Homo sapiens: one gene and its partners. The protein of the gene in region 1 interacts with the protein of each later gene in a pairwise test. Each region holds a gene or a part of one and is shown in the gene's direction. Other genes may lie near its edges.

Evidence for each region.
Region 2: the proteins of SNRNP35 (region 1) and SBK3 interact in binary tests that used the Homo sapiens proteins (3 or more experiments, as listed by UniProt).
Region 3: the proteins of SNRNP35 (region 1) and CCDC57 interact in binary tests that used the Homo sapiens proteins (3 or more experiments, as listed by UniProt).
Region 4: the proteins of SNRNP35 (region 1) and CCT6A interact in binary tests that used the Homo sapiens proteins (3 or more experiments, as listed by UniProt).

The regions. Positions count from the first base shown.
Region 1 is NC_000012.12:123,453,313-123,461,174, forward strand, and holds the start of SNRNP35 (U11/U12 small nuclear ribonucleoprotein 35 kDa protein), read left to right. Parts: upstream 1-4,826; 5' UTR 4,827-4,904; intron 4,905-6,391; exon of another isoform or gene 6,392-6,576; coding exon of another isoform or gene 6,577-6,588; intron 6,589-7,862.
Region 2 is NC_000019.10:55,542,516-55,550,383, reverse strand, and holds the start of SBK3 (uncharacterized serine/threonine-protein kinase SBK3), read left to right. Parts: upstream 1-4,840; coding exon 4,841-4,885; intron 4,886-5,147; exon of another isoform or gene 5,148-5,163; coding exon of another isoform or gene 5,164-5,283; intron 5,284-5,434; coding exon 5,435-5,585; intron 5,586-6,025; exon of another isoform or gene 6,026-6,081; coding exon 6,082-6,284; intron 6,285-7,868.
Region 3 is NC_000017.11:82,100,959-82,104,869, reverse strand, and holds the end of CCDC57 (coiled-coil domain-containing protein 57), read left to right. Parts: intron 1-3,003; coding exon 3,004-3,188; 3' UTR 3,189-3,400; downstream 3,401-3,911. UniProt on the Homo sapiens protein: Pleiotropic regulator of centriole duplication, mitosis, and ciliogenesis. Critical interface between centrosome and microtubule-mediated cellular processes. Centriole duplication protein required for recruitment of CEP63, CEP152, and PLK4 to the centrosome.
Region 4 is NC_000007.14:56,054,765-56,061,764, forward strand, and holds part of CCT6A (T-complex protein 1 subunit zeta), read left to right. Parts: intron 1-600; exon of another isoform or gene 601-738; intron 739-859; coding exon 860-1,033; intron 1,034-1,546; coding exon 1,547-1,650; intron 1,651-3,228; coding exon 3,229-3,339; intron 3,340-3,597; coding exon 3,598-3,757; intron 3,758-3,855; coding exon 3,856-3,938; intron 3,939-4,779; coding exon 4,780-4,876; intron 4,877-5,504; coding exon 5,505-5,652; intron 5,653-5,705; exon of another isoform or gene 5,706-5,838; intron 5,839-6,042; coding exon 6,043-6,176; intron 6,177-6,982; coding exon 6,983-7,000. UniProt on the Homo sapiens protein: Component of the chaperonin-containing T-complex (TRiC), a molecular chaperone complex that assists the folding of actin, tubulin and other proteins upon ATP hydrolysis.

The DNA.
Region 1 (7,862 bases):
TCTTGAATGCCTGCACTCAAGTGATCCTCCTGCTTTGGCGTGAGCCACCGTGCCTGGTCTAATTCTTTTTTTTGTTTTGTTTTTCTGTAGAAATGAGTTCTCACTATGTTGCCTAGGCATGCTCTACTTTCTGGGGAGAGGAGTTATCTCCATAAGTTATTTGCAATTTTGCGTGGAAGATTTGCCTCTTCTCCCCACTTTATTTATTCAATCACTTATTTATATCAGTAGGGACTGGTGGATATTTATTTATTTATTTTGAGATGGAGTTTCGCTCTTGTTATCCAGGCTGGAGTGCAATGGCGGGATCTCGGCTCACTGCAACCTCCGCCTTCCGGGTTCAAGTGATTCTCCTGCCTCAGCCTTCTGAGTAGCTGGGATTACAGGTGCCCGCCACCACGCCCTGCTAATTTTGTATTTTTAGTAGAGACGGGGTTTCTCCATGTTGGTCAGGCTGGTCTTGAACTCCCGACCTCAGATGATCCGCCTGCCTTGGTTTCCCAATGTGCTGGGATTACAGGCATGAGCCACTGTGCCTGGCATTTTTTTTTGTTTTGTTTTTCCTGAGACGGAGTTTCGCTTTTGTCGCTCAGGCTGGAGTGCAGTGGCACGATCTCTGCTCACTGCAACTCCCTGCTCCCCGGTTCAGGCGATTCTCCTGCCTCAGCCTCCTGAGTAGCTGAGATTACAGGCACCCTCCACCACGCCCGGCTAATTTTTTGTATTTTTAGTAGAGACAGGGTTTCATCATGTTGGCCAGTCTGGCCTCGAACTCCTGACCTCACATGATCCACCCTCCTTGGCCTCCCAAAGTGCAGGGATTACAGGTGGGAGCCACCGCACCTGGCCTGATATTTATTTTATTATTATTATTTTTTGAGACACAGTCTCACTCTGTTGCCCAGACTGGAGTGCAGTGGCGCAATCTCTGCTTACTGCAACCTCTGCCTCCCAGGTTCAAGCGATTCTCCTGCCTCAGCCCTGTGAGTAGCTGGAATTAACAGGCGACTGCCACCATGCCCGGCTAAGTTTTGTATTTTTAGTAGAGACGGGGTTTCACCATGTTAGCCAGGCTGGTCTCAAACTCCTTGAGATCAGGGTGGTCCGTCTGCCTCGGCCTCCCAAAGTGCTGGGATTACAGACGTGAACCACCGTGCCTGGCGGATATTTATTTTATGTTTTGGGTTATAATCCAGTACCACTTAATTTACAGTATTTTGTTGCTCATACTGTTTCCACTCTGGCCATTAGGAGTCCTTTCAGTTGGTTCAGCACTCCCTGTGACATCATCATCATTGGTGGGGTGTTTCATTTTTAGCACTACCTTACTTTCTGGTACTACAAGTTGCTTCAAGATCATCTTGTGTATTTCTATTTATTTATTTATTTACTGAGACAGAGTCTCGCTCTGTTGCCCAGGCTGGAGTGCAGTGGCGCGATCTCAGCTCCCTGCAACCTCTGCCTCACAGGTTCAAGCGATTCTCCTGCCTCAGCCTCCCGATTAGCTGGGATTACAGGTGCCTGCCACCACGCCTGGCTAATTTTTGTATTTTTAGTAGAGACGGGGTTTTGCCATGTTGGCCAGGCTGGTCTCAAACTCCTGACCTCAGGTGATCCGCGCCCACCTCGGCCTCCCAAAGTGTGGGATTACAGGTGTGAGCCACCGCACCTGGCCTATTTATTTATGTTTTGAAACAGAGTCTTGCTCTGTCGTCCAGGCTGGAGTGCAGTGGGGCAATCTCTGCTCATCACAACCTCAGCCTCCTGGGTTCTAGTGATCCTTGCACCTCAGGGTCCCAAGTAGCTGGGACCACAGGCGTGTGCCATCACACCTGGCTAATTTTTGTATTTTTATTAGATACCCGGTTTTGCCATATTGCCTAGGCTTGTCTTGGACTCCTGACCTCAAGCGATCTGCCTGCCTCGGCCTCCCAAAGTGCTGGGATTACAGGCGTGAGCCACCATGACTGGGCGAATTTTTTATTTTTTATTTTTTTGAGACAGGGTCTCGTTCCAGCTGGAGTGTGATAGCACCATCTCAGTTTACTGCAGCCTCAAGCTCCTGGGCTCAAGCGATCCTCCCACCTCAGCCTCCTGAGATGCTGGGAGTACAGGCGTGCACCATCAGGCCTGGCTAATTTTATACTTTTTGTAGAGACGGGGTTTCACCATGTTGCCCAGACTGGTCTTGAACTCCTGAGTTCAAGTGATCCACCCGCCTCAGCCTCCCAAAGTGCTGGAATTACAGGTGTGAGCCACTGCACCCAGGCTTCTTGTGTATTTTTTTGTCCCAGTTCTAGAGTCAGCTATTTCTCCAAGGAGCACTGGTTACTTTCATTGGAGAATGATATCAGAAACCAAGATCCGGGTGCTAGGTTATGCTTATTGCTACCAGGGTACACAGACATTTTAATGTATGTGTAACATAAAATTTACCTTTTCCACTGTACTTTCATTTATTTATTTATTTATTTTTGAGACGGAGTTTGCTCTGTCGCCCAGGCTGGAGTGCAGTGGCGTGATCTTGGCTCACTGCAACCTCCGCCTCCTGGGTTCAAGTGATTCTCCTGCCTCAGCTTCCTGAGTAGCTGGGATTACAGGCACGCGCTATGACACCTGGCTAATTTTTGTATTTTTAGTAGAGATGGGGTTTCACCATGTTGGCGTGGCTGGTCTTGAACTTCTGGCCTCAAGTAATCTGCCTTCCTTGGTCTCCCAAAGTGCTGAGATTATAGGCGTAAGCCAACGTGCCTGGTTCTTTTTTTTTTTTTTTTTTTTTTTTTTGAGATGCAGTCTCGCTGTGTCGCCTAGGCTGGAGTACCATGGCGCAATCTCGGCTCACTGCAACCTCTGACTCCCAGGTTCAAGCTATTCTCCTGCCTCAGCCTCCCAAGTAGCTGGGATTACAGGTGCCCGCCAGCACACCCAGCTAATTTTTGTATTTTTAGTAGAGATGCGGTTTCACTATGTTGGCCAGGCTGGTCTTGATCTCCTCACCTCGTGATCCTCCCAACTTGGCCTCCCAGTGTGCTGGGATTACAGGCCTTAGCCTCCTCGCCCGGCCAGTCTGTTTTAACTATTAAATAACATTAGGTAGATTCACATTGTTGTGAAACCATCTGTACTATCTATTTCCAGAACTTCTTCATCATCTCAAATTGAACCTCTGTATCTGTTAAACAATACCTCGCCATCTTCCTAACACCCACAGCAGCCCCTGATAACCACTGCTGTACTTTCCAACCATGAATTTGACTATCCTAGGTCCCTCATATAAGTGGAACCATACAGTATTTGTCCTTATGCTTCTTTCACTTAGCATGGTTCATCCATGAACTACGTTCATTCATGATGTTGTAGCAATTAGAATTTCATTTCTTTTTAAGGAGAAATAGTATTCCATTGCATGTACTGTACATACCACGTGTGTGTGTGTGTGTGTGTGTGTGTGTGTGTGTGTGTGTGTGTGTGTGTGTTTAAAAGCATAGGGGTCAGCCAGGTGTGGTGGCTCACGCCTGTAATCCCAGCACTTTGGGAGGCCAAGGCAGGCAGATCACTTGAGATCGGGAGTTCAAGACCAGCCTGACCAACATGGAGAAACCCCATCTCTACTAAAAATACAAAATTAGCCGGGCATGGTGGCACATGCCTGTAATCCCAGCTACTCGGAAGGCTGTCAGGAGAATTGCTTGAACCTGGGAGGCGGAGGTTGCGGTCAGCCGAGATCGTGCCATTGCACTCCAATATGGGCAACAAGAGTGAAACTCTGTCTCAAACAAAACAAAACAAAAACAAACAAACAAACAACAACATAGGGGTCTTGCTCTGTTGCCCAGGCTGACAGGCTGAACTTGAACTCCTGGCCTCAAGCCTCACGACTCAGCCTCCCTAGTAGCTGAAACTGCAGATGGCCTCCACTGACAGTGGCTACCATATATTTTCAAACATAAAATTTTAAGCTATAGATTTTTCTTTTTTTTGAGACGGACTTTCACTCTTGTTGTTCAGGCTGGAGTGCAATGGCACCATCTCAGTTCATCGAAACCTCTGCCTCCCGGGTTCAAGTGATTCTCCTGCCTCAGCCTCCTGAGTGGCTGGGATTACAGGCACATGACACCATGTCCAGCTAATTTTGTATTTTTAGTAGAGAAGGGGTTTCTCCATGTTGCTCAGGCTGGTCTCGAACTCCGAACCTCAGGTGATCCGCCCGCCTCGGCCTCCCGAAGTGCTGGGATTACAGGCGTGAGGCATGCCACCTGGCCTTTTTTTTTTTTTTTTTTTTTATAAAGAAATTGGGGCCGGGCGCGATGGCTCACGCCTGTAATCCCAGCACTTTGGGAGGCCGAGGCGGGCGGATCACTTGAGGTCAGAAGTTCGAGACCAGCCTGGCCAACATGGCAAAACCCTGTCTCTACTAAAAATACAAAAAATAGCCGGGCGTGGTGGCGGGCGCCAGTAATCCCAGCTACGCGGGAGGCTGAGGCAGGAAAATCACTTGAACCCGGGAGGCGGAGGTTGCAGTGAGCCGAGTTCGCACCACTGCACTCCAGCCTGGGCGACAGAGGGAGTCTCCGTCTCAAGAAAAAATAATAAATAAGAATAAATAAATAATAAAGTAAAATGTCCCAGGTAACTGCATATTCGATAGTCTTTCTTTCAACTTAGTTGTTGAATTAGCAATTTTTCTCTTAAAAAAATTTTTTTTTAGCTTATTGTCTTCGGAGATGATAACACCCTCGTTGCGTGGGAGTAAAATTTTAAAGGTAAAACAAACAGGAAACGAGCGTCGGCGGCGAATCTGCTGCTACCAATGTAAAGGTCAGGCCGAGGCCGGCGCGGAGAATCTGCTGTCGCCTGCAGCTGCTCGCCTGTCTCCGTCGGAAGGGAGCCCAAGCTTTGCAGAGGTGAGTGGAAGCGGCTTGGAAGGAGCGGGCCCCACGCCGGAGAGAAGGAAGAGGGAGTGCGGCCCAGACGCTGTGCCCGCGCTTGTGTGGGGCGCCATGTTGAAACCTGGCAAAGGGGACGACATTCTGGGTTGCGTTGCGGGGAGTGGGGACGAGAGCTGGATTGGAAGGATGGCGCCTTACTCCCTGCGGCCCCCAGAGAAGGAGAGGGGCGGGGGAGCGGCCTCGAGGGTTGGCGGCCAGGCTGCAGGCTGGATGGGAAGGATAGGCTTTTCCACAGAAACTTAGGTGTTTGCCTCCGAGGCCCACTGCGCATGCCCTGGAGGGCTCTGTGGGTTCCGCCTTCAGTTTTGCTTTTCACAGGAGGGGCAAAGTCTTTTTTTTTTTTTTTTCCTTTTTGAGACAGTCTTGCTCTGTCGCCCGGGCTGGAGTGCAGTGGTGCGATCTCGGTTCACTGCAACCTCCGCCTCCTGGGTTCAAGCGATTCCACTGCCTCAGCTTCCCGAGTAGCTGAGACTACAGGCGCCCGCCACCACGCCCTGCTAATTTTTTGTATTTTACTGGAGACGGGGTTTCACCATGTTAGCCAGGATGGTCTCGATCTCCTGTCCTCGTGATCCACCCGCCTCGGCCTCCCAAAGTGCTGGGATTACAGCCGTCAGCCACCGTGCCCGGCCAGGAGGGGCAGAGTCTTACCCCGAAGACCCAGGAAGGAGAGGCTTCATTTATTTTTTTGTTTTTCCCCAGAGACAGGGAGTCGCCCAGGCTGGAGAGCGGTGGCGCGATCTCGGCTCACTGCAGCGTCGACATTTCGGGTCAAGCAGTCCTCCCGCCTCAGCCTCTCAAGTATCTGGGACCACAGGCGCGACCCCACGCCCGGAGAATTGATTATTGATTGATTGATTGAAACGGGGTCTCACTTTGTTGCCCAGGCTGGTCTCGAATTTCTGGGCTCAAGCGATCCTCCAGCCTCGGCCTCTCAAAGTGCTGGTATTACAGGCGTGAGCCAGCGCGTGCCTGGCCAAAAATTTTCTAAATTTGTATAATAATTTATAATTGTAATGCATTTTTATAGACACCATATGATCTAATCTTCACAAAAACCTAGTGAAGTGACATTTAGCTACATTTCACAATAAGAATCCTGAAGCTCAAAATTTACTGACCTCAAATAATCCACCCGCCTTGGCCTCCCAAAGTGCTGGGATTACAGGCATGAGCCACCGCGCCCTGGCCCCCACCATTCATTTCGGCTCTCATCCCCTGTTGATGAGTAAAATGAGAATGAGGCCCAGGCGCGGTGGTTCACGCCTGTAATCCCAGCACTTTGGGAGGCTGAGGCAGGCGGGTCATCTGACATCAGGAGTTTGAGACCAGCTTGGCCAACATGGTGAAATCCTGTCTGTACTAAAAATGCAAAAATTAGCTGGGCGTGGTGGTGTGTGTCTGTAATCCCAGCTACTCGGGAGGCTGAGGCAGGAGAATCACTTGAACCTGGGAGGCAGAGGTTGCAGTGAGCCGAGATTGGCCATTGCACTCCAGCCTGGGTGACAGAGTGAGACTTTGTCTCGAGTAAAAAAAGAGAATGTAAAAATCGAAAGAGATTGTTGTAGGAAATCTCAACCTAATGCTGCCGGGGAGGAAGTGCACCTAGAAAGATTAATGAGAAACAATGAAACCAGCTGTTAGTATCTATAGAAGCATGCAGATGAGAGAGAGAACAAAATCCATGCTTATCCGTTTGTAATTCTCCTCCATTTTAATTTGAAGAAGTCTTAAAGTTTTGAACAGGAGCTCTGTGTACAATAATATCAGTTTTATTTGGTAGATCCTTGTGACTCCTGACTTCAAATGATCCGCTCATCTTGGCCTCCTCAAGTGCTAGGATTGCTGGCGTGAGCCACTGCACCGGGCCCCTTGTGACTTTTTAACGTTGAATGGGGAGGGGTTCTTTTCCTTCAGGAGAGGAGGGGTGGGTCTCAGCCTCAGACACCCAGAATACTGGTTTGTGTGTTTTCTTTTTCCTATCTTTATCTCCAAAACCTTATATTTTATGAAAAGCATCAGAGGAAACGATTAAGAGCTTTAGCTCTGGAGTCCACACTGCCCCTGGTTCTAACTCCTCCACTGGGCTACTTCTTAGCTTTAGGATTTGGGGCACAGGCTGCCTTTTTGTGTCTGACCTTTTTCATCTGAAAAGGCAATAATAATATAGTACCTAAGTCCTGGTATTGTTGAGAAGTGAGAGGAGTTAAGAGGTTAGTACAGGCTGGGTTCGCTGGCTCACATGTGTAATCCCAGCACTTTGGGAGGCTGAGGCAGAAGGATAGCTCATGCCCAGGAGTTCAAGATCAGCCTATGCAATATAGTGAGACCCCATCTCTACAAAAAAAAAAAAAAAAAAAAAAGCTGGGTATGGTGGCGCATAGTGAGTAATTCCAGGTACTCAGGAGGCTAGGGTGGGAGAGGCTGCAGTGAGCCATGACTGTGCCACTGTACTCCAGTCTGGGCAACAGAGCAAGACCCTGTCTCAAAAAAAATTCAAGCGATTCTCCTGCCTCAGCCTTCTGTAGCTGGGATTACAGGCATGCACCACCATGCCTGGGTAATTTTGTATTTTCAATAGAGACGGGGTTACTCCATGTTGGTCAGGCTAGTCTCGAACTCCCGACTTCAGGCAATCTGCCCACTTTTGCCTCCCAAAGTGCTGGGATTCAGGCGTGAGCTACTGCGCCTGGCCTTTTTTTTTTTTTTTTTTTTTTTTTTAAAAACAGAGACAGGGTCTCACCATGTTTCCCATGTTGCCCAGGCTAGTCTCGAACTCCTGGGCTCAAGGGATCCTCCCATTTTGGCCTCTCAAAGTGCTGGGATTACAGGCGTGAGCCACCACGCCCAGCCTCTTCTTTCTTTTTTTTTTGAGACGGAGTCTCGCTCTGTCGCCCAGGCTGGAGTGCAATG
Region 2 (7,868 bases), on another chromosome or scaffold:
CCGAGTACAGTATGAGTGTTGGACACTATTATTATTGCTGTTGTTGTTAACACACTTAACTTGTGTGCCCTCGTTCGGCCAGGAGGGGACAAAGCCAGGAAACGGTCACAAAAGGAGGCCTCGGAGGCTGGTGGGCAGGACGGAGGGGAGGAGAGAGGCACACCGCCCAGCTTTAATGAGGGGTGTGTGTGTACCCTGGGGCTGCAGGACTGCAACCTCCCCCACCACACCTGCGTGCCGAGGTCACTCCGGGTGACCCCGCAGAGCGGCGTTACTAAATGGGGAGGTGCAAAGCTCTTCGGATCACCAGCGAGCGTCTGGGGGAGGGCTGGAGGCCCGCAGCGTCCCCTCTCACTCTCCTCCCGGGGGACCCAGGTGGCCGGCTCTAGGGTAGCAGATGCGCTTGCCTGTCGGCGCACAGCCAGCCCCGGGTCTCCAGTGGAGGAGCTCAGCTCGAGCCGGGCCGGGCACCTGAGGTCGGCCTCACGGGAGCTGCGTGGGCAGGGGGCACAGAGGAGCCTGGAGTCACCAGATCTCAAGGCATCCCAGCTCTGCCTCTCCCTGGCTGCGGCTCTGTGGCCCATGACTCTGCTGCTTCATGCCTCACTGTCCCCATCAGGAAATTGGAAACCATCATTCTACCGACCCAGGGCTTGTTGGGAGGACTCCACAAAGTCTTAAGTGAAAAAGAGAGAGAGACCGAGAGAGCGTGACCAGGGCCTGGCACCAAGTAAGCACCGAGTGTTACTATATTACTGTATCATCATCACTGTATTATTTCATTAAAATTTTTTGAATAACACATACTCACAGGAAAAATTCAAATAATGTAAAAGGCACAGTGGTAAAAAGTTCCCTGAAAGTCATACGGGATGTTGACGTTGATTCCTGACTCATAAAGCAAATAAGGCATTTTTTTTTCTTTTTTTTTTTTTTTTTTTTTTTTTTTGAGACAGAGTCTTACTCTGCCGCCAGGCTGGAGTTCAGTGGTCCATCTTGGCTCACTGCAACCTCTACCTCCCAGGTTCAAGCAATTCTCCTGCCTCAGCCTCCCGAGTAGCTGGGATTACAGGCACCTGCCACCATACCCAGCTAATTTTTGTATTTTTAGTAGAGAGGGGGGTTTCACCTTGTTGGTCAGGCCGGTCTCGAATTCTTGACCTCAGGTGATCCACCTGCCTCGGCCTCCCAAAGTGCTGGGATTATAGGCATGAGCCACCGCGCCCAGCCAAGGCATTTAAAAAAAAATAAATGTGAGAAACTGAAGACAGACTTGTTATTATCTGATTTCGAGAAATTGTTGGGCTGGATACTGTGGCTCACACCTGTATTCTCAGCACTTTGGTAGACCGAGGTAGGAAGATCACTTGAGCCTAGGAGTTTGAGACCAGCCTGGGCAACACAGCAAGACCCTATCTTAAATTTTTTATTTTTTATTTAATTTAATTTTATTTTTTTGAGACAGACTCTCGCTCTGTCGCCCAGGCTGGGGTGCAGTGGCGCCATCTCGGCTCCCTGCAACCTCTGCCTCCCGGGTTCAAGCGATTCTTCTGCCTCAGCCTCTTGAGTAGCTGGGATTACAGACACACGCCACCACGACTGGGTAATTTTTGTATCTGTAGTAGAGATGGGGTTTCACCATGTTGGCCAGGCTGGTCTCGAACTCCCGACCTCAGGCAATTTGCCCGCCTCAGCCTCCCAAAGTGCTGGGATTACAAGCGTGAGCCATCACACCTGGCCTCATCTTCAATTTTGTTAAAAAAGTCATTATGACAATTTTACTGTAGCTGAGCTAGAAATTTTCCTTACTTTTACAGATAGGTACTCTCAAATGTTTGGGCACAATTCATCACAATGCCTGTAGTTTAGTTTATAACTTGTAGCTTTTCATGAAGGAAAATTTCCAGCATAACCAGAAACAGAGGAATAAAATGAGTCCCTTCCCTCTCACTTGTCTCACCACCCACCCACCACCCCCCCATACACACACACACACACACACACACACACACATTTTCTTTTCTTTTGCCAGACTTTTTTGTTTGTTTGTTTTTGAGATAGAGTTTTGCTCTTGTTACCCAGGCTGGAGTGCAATCGTGCCATCTTGGCTCACCGCAACCTCCGCCTCCCGGGTTCAAGTGATTCTCCTGCCTCAACCTCCCAAGTAGCTGGGATTACAAGCATACACCACCATGCCCAGCTAATTTTGTATTTTTAGTAGAGACGGGGTTTCTCCATGTTGTTCAGGCTAGTCTCGAACTCCCGACCTCAGGTGATCCGCCCGCCTCGGCCTCCCAAAGTGCTGGGATTAGAGGCGTGAGTCACCGCGCCCAGCCGGCCAGATGATTTTAAAGCAAACACACCAGGCAGCTCAGCATTTCCACTTCCAAAAGACTTCAATATTTATCATTTACTTGAAACTAGTTTGTATGCCCCCGCCGACAAAGAAATAAAGATCAAGAAAGTATGGCCAAGTGGCCACATCTGTGAAGTTTAGCCAATGGGTGTTCATGACAGCACTTTTTTGTTTGTTTGTTTTTGTTTTGTTGTTATTATTTGTTTGTTTGTTTGTTGTTTGTTTTTGAGACGGAGTCCCGCTCTGTTGCCCAGGCTGGAGTGCAGTGGTGCGATCTCGGCTCACCACAACCTCCGCCTCCCTGGGTTCAAGCGATTCTCCTGCCTCAGCCTGCCCAGTAGCTGGGACTACAGGCACGGACAGCACTTTTTCTACTTTTCTGTAGGTTTGCGACTTTCCCCAATCTAACCTCCGAACAGCAAAGGAAGTTCTACCTCTGCCCCTCCTTGGGTCCCTTCCAGCTCCCCAGAGGCCAGCGCCACAGCCTGTTTCCTGCAGATCCTTCCAGCGCCTACGCGTCGCTGCCGTTGCTGTGTCTTTATTAATAGCAGGGCTGTAGTAGTAGTGGAAACACGAGTGGGGCAGGCAGCAGGCCTCTGAGTCACACAGGCCTGGCCCGGGGCCCGCTCCCCTTCTGACCTTGTGTAACACGATCGTTTCTCGGAACCTCAGTTTCCTGCTCCGTAAACTGGGGATAAATACTGACCCTTTGGGCAGCTGGGAGGATCCAGTGTAAAGCCCCGCACAGGGCTAGGCGCGGAACAGGTGCTGAGAACATGAGAGCACCTCTGTCCCTGGCGCTTCCCACAGCTACTTCAGCTCCTGAGTCCTGCAGGAGGAGGGGCTGGGCCTGGACTCCTGGGTCTGAGGGAGGAGGGGCTGGGGACCTGGGTCTGAGGAAGGAGAGGCTGGGAGTCTGTACTCCTGGGTCTGAGGGAGAAGGGGCTGGGAGCCTGGACTCCTGGGTCTGAGGGAGGAGGGGCTGGGGCCTGGACTCCTGGGTCTGAGGGAGGAGGAGCTGGAGTCTGGACTCCTGGGTCTGAGGGTGGAGAAACTGGGGACCTGGACTCCTGGGTGTGAGGGAGGAGGTGCTGGAGACCTGGACTCCTGGGTCTGAGGGAGGAGGGGCTGGGGCCTGGACTCCTGGGTCTGAGGATGGAGGAACTGGGGACCTGGACTCCTGGGTGTGAGGGAGGAGGGGCTGGAGGCCTGGACTCCTGGGTCTGAGGGAGGAAGGGCTGGGGTCCTGGACTCCTGGGTCTGAGGGAGGAGGGGCTGGGGGCCTAGACTCCTGGATCTGAGGGAGGAGGAGCTGGAGGCCTGGACTCTTGGGTCTGAGGGAGGTGGGGCTTGGGGCCTAGACTCCTGGGTCTGAGGATGGAGGAACTGGGGACCTGGACTCCTGGGTGTGAGGGAGGAGGAGCTGGGGCCAGCACTCCTGGTGTGAAGGAGGAGGGCTTTGGGAACTGTTCCCTGGTCCCTGGACACCAGCGCTCCTGGCCTCTGGGGCAAGACAGAGGTGCTCAGCTCTGGGCCAGTCATCCCAGCTCAGGTGTGTGGAGGGGTCTGTCCCACCCTTTCCTCTGCCCTCAGGCCTGGGCCTTGTTGGGGGTTCACAATATGTTTTGTCCCGTCTGTCCTGGGACTGGAGCCCAGAGTCCAAGCTGGTCTAAGTTTGGAAGGGAGAGGGAGGGGGCAGCGGTCAGAGGGGGTGAGGGAGGGGTGTGGGGGGACAGGATGTCTCTGTCTCTGAGCTGTCACACACACCCCTGTCCCAGGCCCAGAGAAAGGGAGGGACAAAGGCTTTGAGAGAGAGTCAGGAACAAAGAGGAGGAGAGAGACGCAGAGACACTGGGGAGAGCGGACGGAGATGCCCAGAGGGGCCGGGAGAGACGGGAAACAGACAGACAGAGAGAGGGGAGCAGGCAGGGAGCAGAGCGTGGAGACACCCCCAGAGTTGGTGGAGAAAGAGTGGAGACAGTGTGCGGACAGGGGAGAGGGGCCGGCGACCCACAGAGACGGGACAGGGAGGGGGAGTCCCACCCCAGAGACCCAAGTGCGAGACAGAGACAGGGAGGGTGGAGAGAGAGAGACGGGGAGAGAAGGAGACAAAGACGCACAAAGAGAGAGGATAGACGGAGCAAGAGAGAGGCTGACAGAAAGGTGTTCCTGTAGAAGGAAGGAGAGACTGGGGTTGGCTAAAGAGAGGGGAAGAGAGGGTGTGGGGAGTAAGGGCTATCACCTGGGAAGCACAGCAGGGAATACACCCAGAGGGTGGCAGGAGGGCACAGAGAGGCAGAGACACTCCTCCAGCTAGACAGAGCCGGACAGACAAGGGGCGACTGAGGCTGACCTTGCAGACGAGCTTCCATCCCTTGGCTCTGCGCAGCGAGAACCTGTGGGGTGCAGGGGGCTGGTTGCTTTCTGGGGAGCCCTGACGGGGGGGTCCCGCCCAAGGGCCACCCCACATCAGGAAGCCCTGAGATGGAGCGCAGGGCCTCCGAGACCCCTGAGGATGGGGACCCAGAGGTGAGAGACGGGAGCCAGGGGAGGAAGACAGAGAGAGAAAAGAAGGAGAGAGAGGCAGGAGGCAACACGGGGAGAGAGAGGAAGAGAAACAGAAAACAGGGAAACGCAAAGACCTCAGAGACCCAGACCCAGGGAGAGAGGATGACAGAGATCCAAGGACACACAGCGAGACCAAGGCCCCCAGAGAATTGGACTCAGAAACACACAGCGGGATGCACAGGGGAAGAGGACGGTGGAGAGAGAGACCAGGGTGGGCAGGGGGACTGTGTGGGCTGAGGATGCACCCCCACTCGGGGCTGGGGGCTCCTGGCCTGCTCCCACAGACAGGGGCAGGCGGGGCCTCTGTGGCAGTGACCCCTAACCTCTCCAGGACACAAAAACAGGTGGCCCGAGTCCGGGTGAGTCACTGTGACTCATCCTCCTCTCTGGGGACAGTGACCCCTGTCCCCTGCCCCACCCTCCATCCTGGGGCTGCGCCGTGACCTCCTCCCCCACCACTCTCAGTGGACCCCAGACGCGCCCCCTCCTCACCCTGCCCCTCTCCCGTAGGAGGACACAGCCACAGCCCTCCAACGGCTGGTGGAGCTGACGACCAGCAGGGTGACCCCGGTGAGGAGCCTTCGGGACCAGTACCACCTCATCCGGAAGCTGGGCTCCGGCTCCTACGGCCGCGTGCTCCTTGCCCAGCCTCACCAGGGGGGTGAGTTCAGCCACCCAAGGGCAGCCTCCCCAACTGCCCCACAATAAGCATTCTCGGAAGCCACCCAGACAGGGGGCATTCCCAGGAGGAGCTGATGGGGACCCTTCTCAGTGGGGGTACTCTGAAAGTTAAGAGCTCTGGGATCTTCTGAGAAACACAGGCCCCACCCCAGAGAGGGCGAGGGACTGCCTACGGTCCCACAGCAGGACAGGTATGCAACTCAAGTTGGAACCCAAGTCACCACCGTGTCTCTTACTTGATGCCAGGGGAAACTGAGGCCCGGAGAGGGTGAGGCGGCTGTGCAAGCCCACGCCGCAGTCCGAGGCAGAGCAGGGAGGGTCTTCAAAGAAGGTCTCCTCCCACCCACACTTCACAGACAGGGGAGCCCGTGCTGCCCATGAGAAGTGTGAGGCTCAGAGAGTTTACACGGCTTCCCTCAGGCCCCACAGCAGGACTGGAGCCGCCTGAGTGTCCCTCCGACCCATCTCCCTGGCAGGTCCAGCTGTGGCTCTGAAGCTCCTGCGTCGGGATTTGGTCCTGAGAAGCACCTTCCTGAGGGAGTTCTGTGTGGGCCGCTGCGTCTCTGCACACCCAGGCCTGCTGCAGACCCTGGCAGGACCCCTACAGACCCCCCGCTATTTTGCCTTCGCCCAGGAGTACGCGCCCTGTGGGGACCTCAGCGGGATGCTGCAGGAAAGGGTGAGGCCACGAGGGACAAAGGTTGGGAGTGCTTATCCCAGGTCCAACTCTGTCCCAAGCCCCGTCTCTGTCTCCAACTCTGACCCCAAATCAGGGCCCGCCCAATCCATCTCCACCCTGAGCCCCCACATGACCTCCCCCTTTCTAATTCTCAACGAGGTTCCATGCCTGACCTCAACCCTAATCCATCCAATCACCCAAACACAATCGTGGAAAGGCAGGGAGCTGGGGGTGGGATTGAGGATGGACTGGAGTCAATGAAGGGGGTGGGGAGGGAGACAGGGTTGGGATTTTAGTTGACTCTGAGGTTAGGGTGTGGGCATGGGTGGAGTTGGGTGGGTTGAGTTTAGAGTTGATTATAGATTCATCGTGAGTATGGAGAAAAGCATGAATGGGCTGCAGAGAGAAGCAGAGACGGTTGAGGATGTGTATATAGACTGAGTTGGAGATGGGCTATAATGGGGTTTCTTCTAGAAAGGAGACCAGGTCAGGACAGAACCCATGATATTCTAGGGTCTCTCGAGTTTGGAGATTAGGGGTAGGGATAGTTTCAGGAATAGATTTTGGATTTGAGATAAAGTTAGGGATAAATGGAAGGAATAAAAGAAGGAAGGGGATGAGGAAGGTACATGTGGAGAAATGAGTCTCATTGAGAATTAGAAGGATGGAAGGATGGGTGAGTGGACAGATGGGTGGGTGAATAGATGGGTGGAAGGAAGGACTGGTAGATGGATGGGTGGGTGGATGGATGGGTGGGTGGGTGGGTGGATGGATGGATGGATGGATGGATGGATGAAAGGATTGGTGGGTGAGTGGATGGATGGATGGATGAGTGGGTGGGTGGATGGAAGGATCCATGGGTGGATGGATGGGTGGGTGGATGGATGGATGGTGGATGGATGGATGGGTGGGTGGGTGGATGGATGGGTGGGTGGATGGGTGGATGAAAGGATTGGTGGGTGGATGGATGGATGGATGAAAGGTTTGGTAGGTGAGTGGATGGATGGATGAAAGGTTTGGTGGGTGAGTGGATGGATGGATGAGTGGATGGGTGGGTGGGTGGGTGGATGAAAGGATTGGTTGAGTGGACGGGTGGGTGGGTGGATGGAAGGATCCGTGGGTGGATGGATGGATGGGTGGATGGATGGATGGATGGGTGGGTGGATGGATGGGTGGGTGGGTAGATGGAGGGGTGGATGGATGGATGAAAGGATTGGTGGGTGGATGGATGGATGGAAGGAAGGATTGGTGGGTGGATGGACGGATGGATGGATGGATGGATGGATCGATAGAAGGAAGGATTGGTGGGTGGATGGATGGGTGGATGGATGGATGAAAGGTTTTGTGGGTGAGTGAATGGATGGATGAGTGGATGGGTAGGTGGGTGGGTGGATGAAAGGATTGGTTGAGTGGATAGGTGGGTGGGTGGATGGAAGAATTGGTGGATGGATGGGTGGGTGGATGGCTGCATGGACGGATGGATGAAAGGATTGGTGGGCGGATGGATGGATGGACGGAAGGAAGGATTGGTGGATGGATGGATGGATGGATGAAAGGATTGGTGGGCGGATGGGTGGATGGATG
Region 3 (3,911 bases), on another chromosome or scaffold:
TCCCTGAGATTCCACCAGCTTCAAACCTCCAAGCCGGGCTTGGTGGCCCACACCTGTAATCCCAGCACTTTGGGAGGCCGAGGTGGGTGGATCACGAGGTCAGGAGATCGAGACCATCCTGGTTAACATGGTGAAACCCCGTCTCTATTAAAAATACAAAAAACTTAGCGGGGCGTGGTGGCGGGCGCCTGTAGTCCCATCTACTCGGGAGGCTGAGGCAGGAGAATGGCGTGAACCCGGGAGGCGGAGCTTGCAGTGAGCTGAGATCACGCCACTGCACTCCAGCCTGGGCGACAGAGTGAGACTCCGTCTCAAAAATAAAAATAAAAATTTAAAAAACCCTCCAAGTATGGTGCAGCCGCCTGAGGGGACGGAGCCCAGCCTGGGTGGCCCTGCCTCAGCACACACCAGGACCTGGGAGGGGTTAAGCCTGGGAGGGGCAAGCAGGCCCCAGTCCCCCTCCCCTGGTTAATCACTGCAAGGCCTTGGATGTTTCAGGAACTTTCCAGAAGCTCAGTTCGGGGCCAGAGCACAAGCAGCCCGTGGGGGAGGGGTGCAGGACCCAAGAGGCGCGTTCCTCACGCTGTGCCCGGCAAACTGTGTGTCCACATGGTTTCCCTGCGGCCCAGTCAGCCCAACGCAGAAAGAGAAATCCCGGCCAGGCTCGGCAAAACAGGTCAGGCGAGAAGGCGGGGCAGAGAGTGGTGGAGGCCAAGAGCGTTTTTACACACCAGTTACTGGGTTGACCTCAGATTAGCATCAGGTAGAAGAATCCGGGGTCACAGGGAGTCACGCCTGGGGCAGCCGCCTTGACACATCCAGCTCCGTGCCTCTGACCTAGGACTGGCTGGGCTGGGGCTGTCCGCTGCCCTGGGGTCCTGGGCTCATGGCCAGTTCCCTGCCACCATCACTGAGGAGGGCTCCGCAGGAAAAGGACCAGTGAAGAAACCAGAGCCTGTAAAGTGGATATTCTGAGCTAGGGGCCGGCCTGCCCTGGGGAGGGGGCCAGCTCACCCTCCCTGCCCCTCCCTGCCCCTCCCTGCCCCGGGGACTGTGACCCACTCACACCTCCCTGCTTCGCCCCGGGATACAGCCAGGGTCCTCCCAGCAGGGCCAGCTCAGGCCTCCCAGGCAAAGGGGCAGGCCCTTCACCCCCCTCCCTCAGCTCACTTTTTCTGAAAATCCCCACAGGCTTTGTCTGAGGAGGATCAAGCCGGGCAAAGCCCCCAGAATCCCTGAGCATTACAGAGGGACAACCAAGGCCTCTGGGTTTGAGGAGATGCCTCAGGGTCACAGTGGAGCACTAGGGCCTGGTCAGAGGACCAGCTTCCCCGCAGGAAGCCCTTTCCACGGGATACCCCACCCTCTGCCAGCCAGTGTGGGGGGTGGGGGGAGGGAGTGGGGATGGGGGCGTTGGCCGGGACCAGGAGGTCAGGCAGGCTTATTGTTGAGAGATAAAGGGTGGTAGCCTTTGTGTGAAGAGGAGGAATTCCTCTGGGGGTTGGAAACAAAGGGAGCAGGCAGCGTCCAGGGCCCCCCAGGACCCCAGCAGGGGGCCAGGGACTGTGTGACCCCAACGGGGCTGCAGGAAAAGGAAGACTGGTTCCGGGTGTCTTGAGACCCCAAGAGTGGATCGGAGTGGAAGAAGCTGAGATGGGAAGAGGGGCCCAGGGCCAGGGCTGGGAGTGTGTGGCTGCCCCCATGGGCACTGCGCAGCCCAGCTGAGAGTGCGTCATTGCCGGTGTCCCCAAAGCACAGACGCTTCCCAGTCACCCAGGCTGCACGCAGACCACACAGGCTGGGCTCCAGCAGGAGGCGTTGGCCGCCCGCTGACCTGCCTGGGTCAGCCTGTCCAGACTGCCCACTGGGCCACATTCAGCCACGTGCTGGAGTCCTCTAGACCTCACCCCAGCCACAGTGTGGCCACGCAGTGGACGCTGAGCTCACATCTTACTGTGGGGTTTTTTTTGTTTTTTTTTTTTTTGAGATAGAGTTTGCCCTTGTCCGCCCAGGCTGGAGTGCAGTGGCGCAATCTCGGCTCACTGCAACCTCTGCCTCCCGGGTTCAAGCGACTCCGCTGCCTCAGCCTCCTAAGTAGCTGGGATTACAGGTGCCCGCCACCGTGCCCGGCTAATTTTTTGTATTTTTAGTAGAGACGGCGTTTCACCATTGTTGGCCAGGCTAGTCTTGAACTCCTGACATGAGGTGATCCACCCACCTCGGCCTCCCAAAGTGCTGGGATTACAGACGTGAGCCACCAAGCCCAGCCCTTGCATGGATTTTTAGTAACATTTTGCTGTTGTTTTACCAAAAAAAACCCCCACATTCTTAATTGAAAAAATGAAAAATAGAGAAAAACTGGCCAGATAAAGAAGATCACCTACAACACCCCTCTGCGAAGATGGTTTTAGCCGATGTTTAGGAAGGGCTATCTGGCATTTAGGCCCCAGCCTCTGTGTGTAGCGCACTCCTGGGCCCTTGGCCTGTGCCTGGCCACGTGGTGCCCACCAGCACGGCCTTTCCTTTGGCCTCAAAAGCCTGGCACTGCTGGCCCATCGGGGAGGCGGGGGCAGGCAATGTGTCTCAGATGGTAGGGACACCCGGGGCAGCCTGGGGGGAGGAGCTTTGAGTCAACCATTTACCCCAGCACCCCTGCCCCCTCCTGGGACCCATTACCACACAGCACCCCTGCCCCCTCCTGGGACCCATTACGAAATGGTCACAACAGGACCATTTTCAGAGCCACATGTCCAGGTGCCCAGTGGAGGGGCAGGCCCAGTCCCTGCCAAGCAGGACCCACTGAGCAAGGCGAGGCCACAGCTCTCTGGTCACTCCAGGATCCTTTGGCCTTCACGGACTCCTGGAGGAAAGCCAGGCCAAGGGTCACAGGGCCCCCGCTGGCCGGGAACACGGAAGTGCTGCACCTGTGCAGTGCCTGTGAGCACAGCCTCCTGCTCCCCCTGCCATCCTGATGCATGCTGTTTTTTCCTCTTTACCTGACAGAGCTCCCAGCTCCTCCAGCAGCCGACAGGAGGCCCGTCAAGATGCAGGCAGGCATTGCCACCCCAGGGATGAAGACAGCAGCCCAGGCAAAGGCCAAGACCACAGGAGCCTCCCGGTCTCATCCTGCAAAAGCTAAAGGCTGCCAGAGGCCCCCCAAGATCCGTAACTACAACATTATGGACTGACTTCCTCCCCCCACCCCGCCCCACTAAGGGGTGCTCGGGGCCTCCGCATGGTGCCTGTGCTTTCACCTACGTGTTGTGGGGGGGTGTGGGCACAGCGTGCAGGGTGGAGGCAGGGAGCTGCAGGGCAGGCTCCCAAATGCTGCTGAGGCGACCCTGCTGACTGAAGGCCTCCCTGAGCACAGGGCCCATTAAAACCAGGTTCCTCCCTGGGGCGTCTGCTTGGCCTTAGCGTTGTTTATCTGTCCTACTTGGGAAATGCAGTATCAAGTGCCTGTGCCAGAGCCTGGCCTGCCCGTGTCACCACCCACAGCCATCTGCACACCAGTGGTGTTGGGGACAGTGTGGCCTTCCTCAGAGCCTGGTAGCAGGTAGGGGGCAGATCAGAAAGCCCACCCACAAAGCAGGCGTCTCCTGAGAGTACCATGGGAGGGGCCCTCCCAGAAGGAGTGAGAGCCTTGGATCCCAGTGAACCGGGCCAAGGTGACCCCTGGAAGCCAGGTGGGCACCTGGGCCTCATGCAGGTTGGGGTGTGCATGTCAGGTGCTGGCAGGGTGGGGGCCAACCGGGGACAGCGGTCACTGCTGGGCCTTCCACGTCCACCCCCACGAAGGATAACAGCAAAATGTCCCTGCCACCTGAGTGCCCGGGGCCAGGTACCTGCAAGGATGAGAAACGCACACGTAAACTGACGCCCGTCCGCCCGGAACACACTGCACTACCCCG
Region 4 (7,000 bases), on another chromosome or scaffold:
CTAAAAATGGAATGTTTAGGACTAGGCATATTTGTTAGGAAAAAGGCAACCAAAAGCTTATATTTGGATAAATTCCACTTTTTTAGCCCTGACTAGTTCCAAGGTTAAAGCAAACCTCAGTGAATATGAATGTATTGTCAGAATTTCCTGGAGAAAGAGAACAGTCTTTATTTTTATTAGTAAATGATGTGAGTTAGTTTGAGATTACCTATAGAAAGGATAGAATAGTCCAGGCGCAGTGGCTCACGCCCATAATCCCAGCACTTTGAGAGGCCGAGGTGGGCGGATCACCTGAGGTTGGGAGTTCGAGACCAGTCTGACCAACATGGAGAAACCCCGTGTCTACTAAAAATACAAAAATTAGCCAGGCGTGGTGGTGCATGCCTGTAATCCCAGCTACTTGGGAAGCTGAGGCAGGAGAATTGCTTGAACCCAGGAGGTGGAGGTTGTGGTGAGTCGAGATTGTGCCATTGTACTCCAGCCTGGGTAACAAGTGCGAAACTCCATCTCAAAAAAAATGAAAGAAAATAAAGATAGGATAATGCTACCATCTGTGAGTTGTTGGGACACAGTGTTGGTTTTGAAATGATTCAGAGTGGTTTGCACAGTGAACACCCAAGTGTGCTTTATAGTTCCCTTGGCTTTGACCCTGTGCTAGAGCATTCATTACCTGTTCATCTGCTCTGCATTGAAAGGAATATTTGTCCTTTTAAATGTATTCAGAAAGCCAGCACATTATATTACCTCGTGTTCAAAGGTATGATGATCCAGAACACTCCTTCAATAATTACCTGAACTTTATCATGAACTATGGTTGCACCTAATTGAAGATGCAAGTGTTAATGTGTGTTTATTTTAGGGCCTTCATCCTAGAATAATCACTGAAGGATTTGAAGCTGCAAAGGAAAAGGCCCTTCAGTTTTTGGAAGAAGTCAAAGTAAGCAGAGAGATGGACAGGGAAACACTTATAGATGTGGCCAGAACATCTCTTCGTACTAAAGTTCATGCTGAACTTGCAGATGTCTTAACAGAGGTATGTATTAAATTTTGTCTATGTCTGGTATAGTATACCTATATAGAAAATCTCTGATAGTAGAAACATGAATATGATTACCAATTTCAATTACAAGGTGCTGTGTAGGTTCATTTTTGTGGCAATGATACCTAATCTGTGTCTCTAAAAATGAGGAAATTAAAATAATAGTATACCTAACCAGGTTATAAAAGTAAAATTGAAGCTTTCATTAAAAGGTTTATAAAGTGGAGATTTTTTTATTAGAAAGCTTCCAGTTACCAGTATTTTTAATAAAACGAGGAATGTTAATGTTAATTAATGTTAATGTTTGGGAATTATAGATGGAGATTTCAGAAATGTAAATGACTTCAGCTGTTGCCTTTTACATATAATGTATTCTATTTGCTGATAGAAAAAGACTTAAATCAGTGTAGAATTGTAAAATGAAACTGCCTACTTTAGCCTTCTGAAAAGCAACATGTTTCTGCTGCAAATTGAATTTACTTAACGGTTATGCTCCTCCAATTGCAGGCTGTAGTGGACTCCATTTTGGCCATTAAAAAGCAAGATGAACCTATTGATCTCTTCATGATTGAGATCATGGAGATGAAACATAAATCTGAAACTGATACAAGGTAGGTGGTAGAAGACTGTGAAATACTAATGGGCATGGAGGCTCACACCTGTAATCCCAGCACTTTGGGAGGCTGTGGTGGGCAAATCACCTCAGGTCAGGAGTTCCAGACCAGCCTGGCCAACATGGGGAAACCCCGTCTCTATTAAAATTACAAAAATTAACCAGGCGTGCCGGGCATGACTGTAATCCCAGCTACTCGGGAGGCTGAGGCAGCAGAATAGCTTGAACCTGGGAGGCGGAGGTTGCAGTGAGCTGAGACCACACCATTGCACTCCAGCCTGGGTGACAAGAGCGAAACCCCGTCCCATTAAAAAAAAAACAAAAACAAAAAATAAACTGTGTTTAGAAATTTAGGGGTGCTTTGTACAATATAGATAGTTGGCTTTTTTTTTTTTTGAGATGGAGTCTTGCTCTGTCGCCCAGCCTGGAGTGTACAGTGGCATGATCTCGGCTCACTGCAAGCTCTGCCTCCCGGGTTCACACCATTCTCCTGCCTCAGCCTCCCGAGTAGCTGGGACTACAGGCGCCCGCCACCATGCCCGGATAATTTTTGTATTTTTAGTAGAGACGGGGTTTCACCATGTTAACCAGGATGATCTCGATCTCCTGACCTCGTGATCCGCCCACCTCGGCCTCCCAAAGTGCTGGGATTACAGGCGTGAGATGGCAATTTTAAAAATATCTTTGGATATAAAATGTTATATATTTACCTGAAGATATAAGTTGGATAAACTGCTAGGAGAATATTGTTTTTAGTAATATTTTCTCCTGAAATAAGGTGAATGTTATGTTTATGGTTAGAATGATTCTGAAAAGTGAACAACATCAGTCATTTGGCATTTATTGAATTGCTAGGTACAAAGCATAATGAGAAGTAGTAGAGGAATTTAAAAAAATATTTTTTTCAAAGAGTTAGTTAGAAAACATGTTTGTTTTCCCTTTGGGGTGTGTGTGTGTGTGTGTCTGTGTGGAGAATGGAGTCTCCCTATGTTGCCCAGGCTGGTTTTAAATTCCTGGGATTAAGGTGTCCTCTCACTTCTGCCTCCGTAAGTGCTGGGATTACAGGTGCTTGGTAGAAAACATGTTTTTAAAGGACGTCATCACAGTTTGACAGCCTACCAGTGAGACCATCTCTGCAGACTTTTCTGTACAGCGTAGGATCTTCAGGTAATTTAAGAAATAGGCCGGGCGCAGTGGCTCATGCCTGTAATCCCAGCACTTTGGGAGGCCAAGGCGGGCGGATCACGAGATCAGGAGATCGAAACCATCCTGGCTAACACGGTGAAACCCCGTCTCTACTAAAAATACAAAAGAATTAGCTGGGCATGGTTGTGGGTGCCTGTAGTCCCAGCTGCTTGAGAGGCTGAGGTAGGAGAATGGTGTGAACCCAGGAGGTGGAGCTTGCGGTGAGCCAAGATGGCACCACTACACTCCATCCTGGGCAACAGAGCGAGACTTCATCTCAAAAAAGAAAAATGTGACTGCGTGAAATATCAATACCTTCTCATTTCAGTGTTTAATATATTAAATACCCATCTGAAAATCAATAACCATAATTTTGTGTGTGTTTAAACAGCTTAATCAGAGGGCTTGTTTTGGACCACGGAGCACGGCATCCTGATATGAAGAAAAGGGTGGAGGATGCATACATCCTCACTTGTAACGTGTCATTAGAGTATGAGAAAACGTAAGTTTATAGCCCCTTAACAGTGAAATGGAGAAGCTTCGTATTTTAGGCGAGTTACTTTTTTGTGAAACTTTGTTTCCCACTGTAAGGACAATAATGCTCAAATTGGTTTGGGGGAGCTATAGGAAACAGTCTCTGAAGATGCATAAGGGGCAGGATTGGAGCTCAGTGAACTGTTAAATCTTAGGACTAATCCAGTTTCAGAAGCTGCTTTCTTAATGTTTCCCTGCTTTCTGTAACTTTTTTTTTTCTTAATAGAGAAGTGAATTCTGGCTTTTTTTACAAGAGTGCAGAAGAGAGAGAAAAACTCGTGAAAGCTGAAAGAAAATTCATTGAAGATAGGGTTAAAAAAATAATAGAACTGAAAAGGAAAGTCTGTGGCGATTCAGATAAAGGATTTGTTGTTATTAATCAAAAGGTGAGAATGAAAACTCAATGTATAAACTAAATAGTACGTATCATCCTTTTTACTTTTAAGGTGAAAGATGTTGAAATTAATTTTTATTTTTGTTACAGGGAATTGACCCCTTTTCCTTAGATGCTCTTTCAAAAGAAGGCATAGTTGCTCTGCGCAGAGCTAAAAGGAGAAATATGGAGAGGTATCCGAGTAATTTGACTTTTACTCATTTTGCAAGTGAATTGGGATTATTTCTTTTTCCTTATACTTTATTTTTGGGTTTTTCAACTGTATAGTTAATTGGCATTAACTATATTCACATTGTGCACCCCGTCAGCACTGTCCATCTCTAGGACTTTTTTCATCATCACAAACTGAAACTGTATACCCATTAAATAGTTACTCCCCATTTCTCCCTCCCCCTTGCCCCTTGTAAACATTATTTTACTTTTTGTTTCTGAATTCAATATACTTTTTTCCAAAGAGCTCCCCACAATAAAAAGCTTTTTTTAAAAATTTTTTATTATTATTTTTTGAGACAGTCTTGCTCTTTCGTGCAGTGGCATGATCTTGGTTCATTGCGACTACCACTTCCTGGGTTCATAGGATTCTCAGCCTCCCGAGTAGTTGGGATTACGGGTGTCTGCCACCATGCCCACTGAATTGCTTTGTGTTTTTTTAGTAGAGATGGGGTTTTGCCATGTTAGCTAGGCTGGTCTCAAACTCCTGGCCTCAAGTGATCCACCCACCTCAACCTCCCAAAGTGTTGGGATTACAGGTGTGAGCCACCATGCCTGGCTAATAAAGAGCTCTTGTCCACCTTTTAGATTTCATTTGCTAACTTGGGGAGAGTGGTTTAAATGGAGGGTTAAGAGAAAAGACTAGTTTTTAGCTGGTTGATGGCAAATGGAAAGGCTTAAAGTACATTTTAAAATTTAATTTTGTGTGTAATTCTGAAAAATTCCTTCCTAAAAATTACTGGTCTTATCTTTGAAATTCACTGGTAACGTTGCTTATCCATCTCCCTTAAAATGCTATTTCAGGCTGACTCTTGCTTGTGGTGGGGTAGCCCTGAATTCTTTTGACGACCTAAGTCCTGACTGCTTGGGACATGCAGGACTTGTATATGAGTATACATTGGTAAGTGTATTTTTTTCTTAAAGGTAATAGAACCTTTTAGCTCGTGAATTATTTTTGTTTGTTTGTTTGAGGTGGGGTCTCACTCCTGCCCGGGCTGGAGTGCAGTGGTGTGATCACAGTTCACTACAGCCTCATCTTCCTGGGTTCAAGTGATCCTCCCGCCTCAGGCTTCTGAGCAGGTGGGACCACAGACGTGTGTGCTACCATGACTGGCTAATTTTTTTTTTTCTTGGTAATTTTTGTAGAAACAGGTTCATAATTGTGTTGCCCAGGCTGGTCTTAAACTCCCGGGCTCAGGCTGTCCTTCACCCTCAGCCTCCCAAAGTGCTGAGATTACAGGCATGAGCCACCGTGCCTGGTTCATGAAGTCTTTAGCAGAAAAATTAATTGAAATTCAGGATCAGATTTTTGTTTATATACATTTTGAAGGTTTATGTGTAGTAATGGGAAGCCATTGATGGGGAAAATCACATTTCTTTTATGTGATTTTTCAAAAGGAGATAATTTGCTTTAATGTGATCAAGTTTGTTCCTTATTAATATGCTACTTGTCATTCTCTGTAAGTCCCTCTTCTCTCTTCACTCTGCACAAATCCTGTTTTTGAAAATCATATTTTTTCTACACATAGGGAGAAGAGAAGTTTACCTTTATTGAGAAATGTAACAACCCTCGTTCTGTCACATTATTGATCAAAGGACCAAATAAGCACACACTCACTCAGATCAAAGATGCAGTGAGGGACGGCTTGAGGGCTGTCAAAAATGCTATTGATGATGGTAAGATCCTCACTGTATTTCAATTCTTTTATATTGTTTTGCTGGTCTGAAAGGCATGGCCGAATACTGTGTTTTTATCAGTAGTTTACACAGCCAGACACCATGCAAAAGCAGTCTTCCCTTTAGAATGACTGATGGTATGCTAAGGTTTTTCATAGCATATCATTATTAAAGGTGAATACAAATAAATGAACTAATACTGATCTGTTGAAAGCTGCCAGTGGCTAGTGAAGCCATTCTGGTTGAACCATTCTCCTATTTGGTATGTTAGTCACTTGTATTTTGTCATAGTAAATTTGTAAGAAATTAATGGCTTTCATATGTATATTTTGTTATTCATAATTAGTTCTGCAGTTTTCTTAGCATTTTTCCTTTTCCCCCATCCAACAGGCTGTGTGGTTCCAGGTGCTGGTGCCGTGGAAGTGGCAATGGCAGAAGCCCTGATTAAACATAAGCCCAGTGTAAAGGGCAGGGCACAGCTTGGAGTCCAAGCATTTGCTGATGCATTGCTCATTATTCCCAAGGTGTGCATGCTTTTAACAGTCAATCTTCCAAAAGATTCAGCTGATCAAACCTTTCTGATAATGTAGGATTTATTCATAAAGTGGATTTTGGATAAGCAAGTTTGATCAGTTTTCTTTCTGACTCTAGAACAGGTATTCCTCATCATCCAGATATATTTGGTTTCTCTGGGAAGCCTGAATAGCTGACATTGCAGATGGCAAGAGATAACCTGTAGTTTAATATTTGCAGTATTAGGGGTTATACTTGAGTACAAACTTGCTTTTTGCTTTTGTTTTAAACTGATATCATTGTTTTCTATTATATACCAGTTTTGATATATAATTTATGACTGGTGTATTGCTGCTGGGTTTGGGGTAGTTGAGAGAGTTGATCAGTAACTTGTGTCTGGTATTCTCTGAAGGGAACATAAATGTTCTGTCTTTATGCAATGAGTTTTTTTTTTTTTTTTTTTTTGAGACAGTTTTGTTCTTGTTTCCCAGGCTGGAGTGTAATGGTGCGATCTCAGCTCACTGCAGCCTCAGCCTCTCGAGTAGCTGGGATTACAGGCACCTGCCACCACACCCGGCCAGGTTTTTTTTTATTTTTAGTAGAGATGGGGTTTCACCATGTTGGCCAGGCTGGTCTCGAACTCCTGACCTCAGGTGATCCACCTTCCACGGCCTCCCAAAGTCCTGGGATTACAGGCGTGAGCCACTGCACCAGGCCGAGATTTTCTTTTTCTTTTTTCTTTTTTTTTTTTTTTTTTTTTTTTTTACTATCAGTTATTAGTTCCTGTTTTCTCAAGAATTAAATTTGTTTACTTTAGGTTCTTGCTCAGAACTCT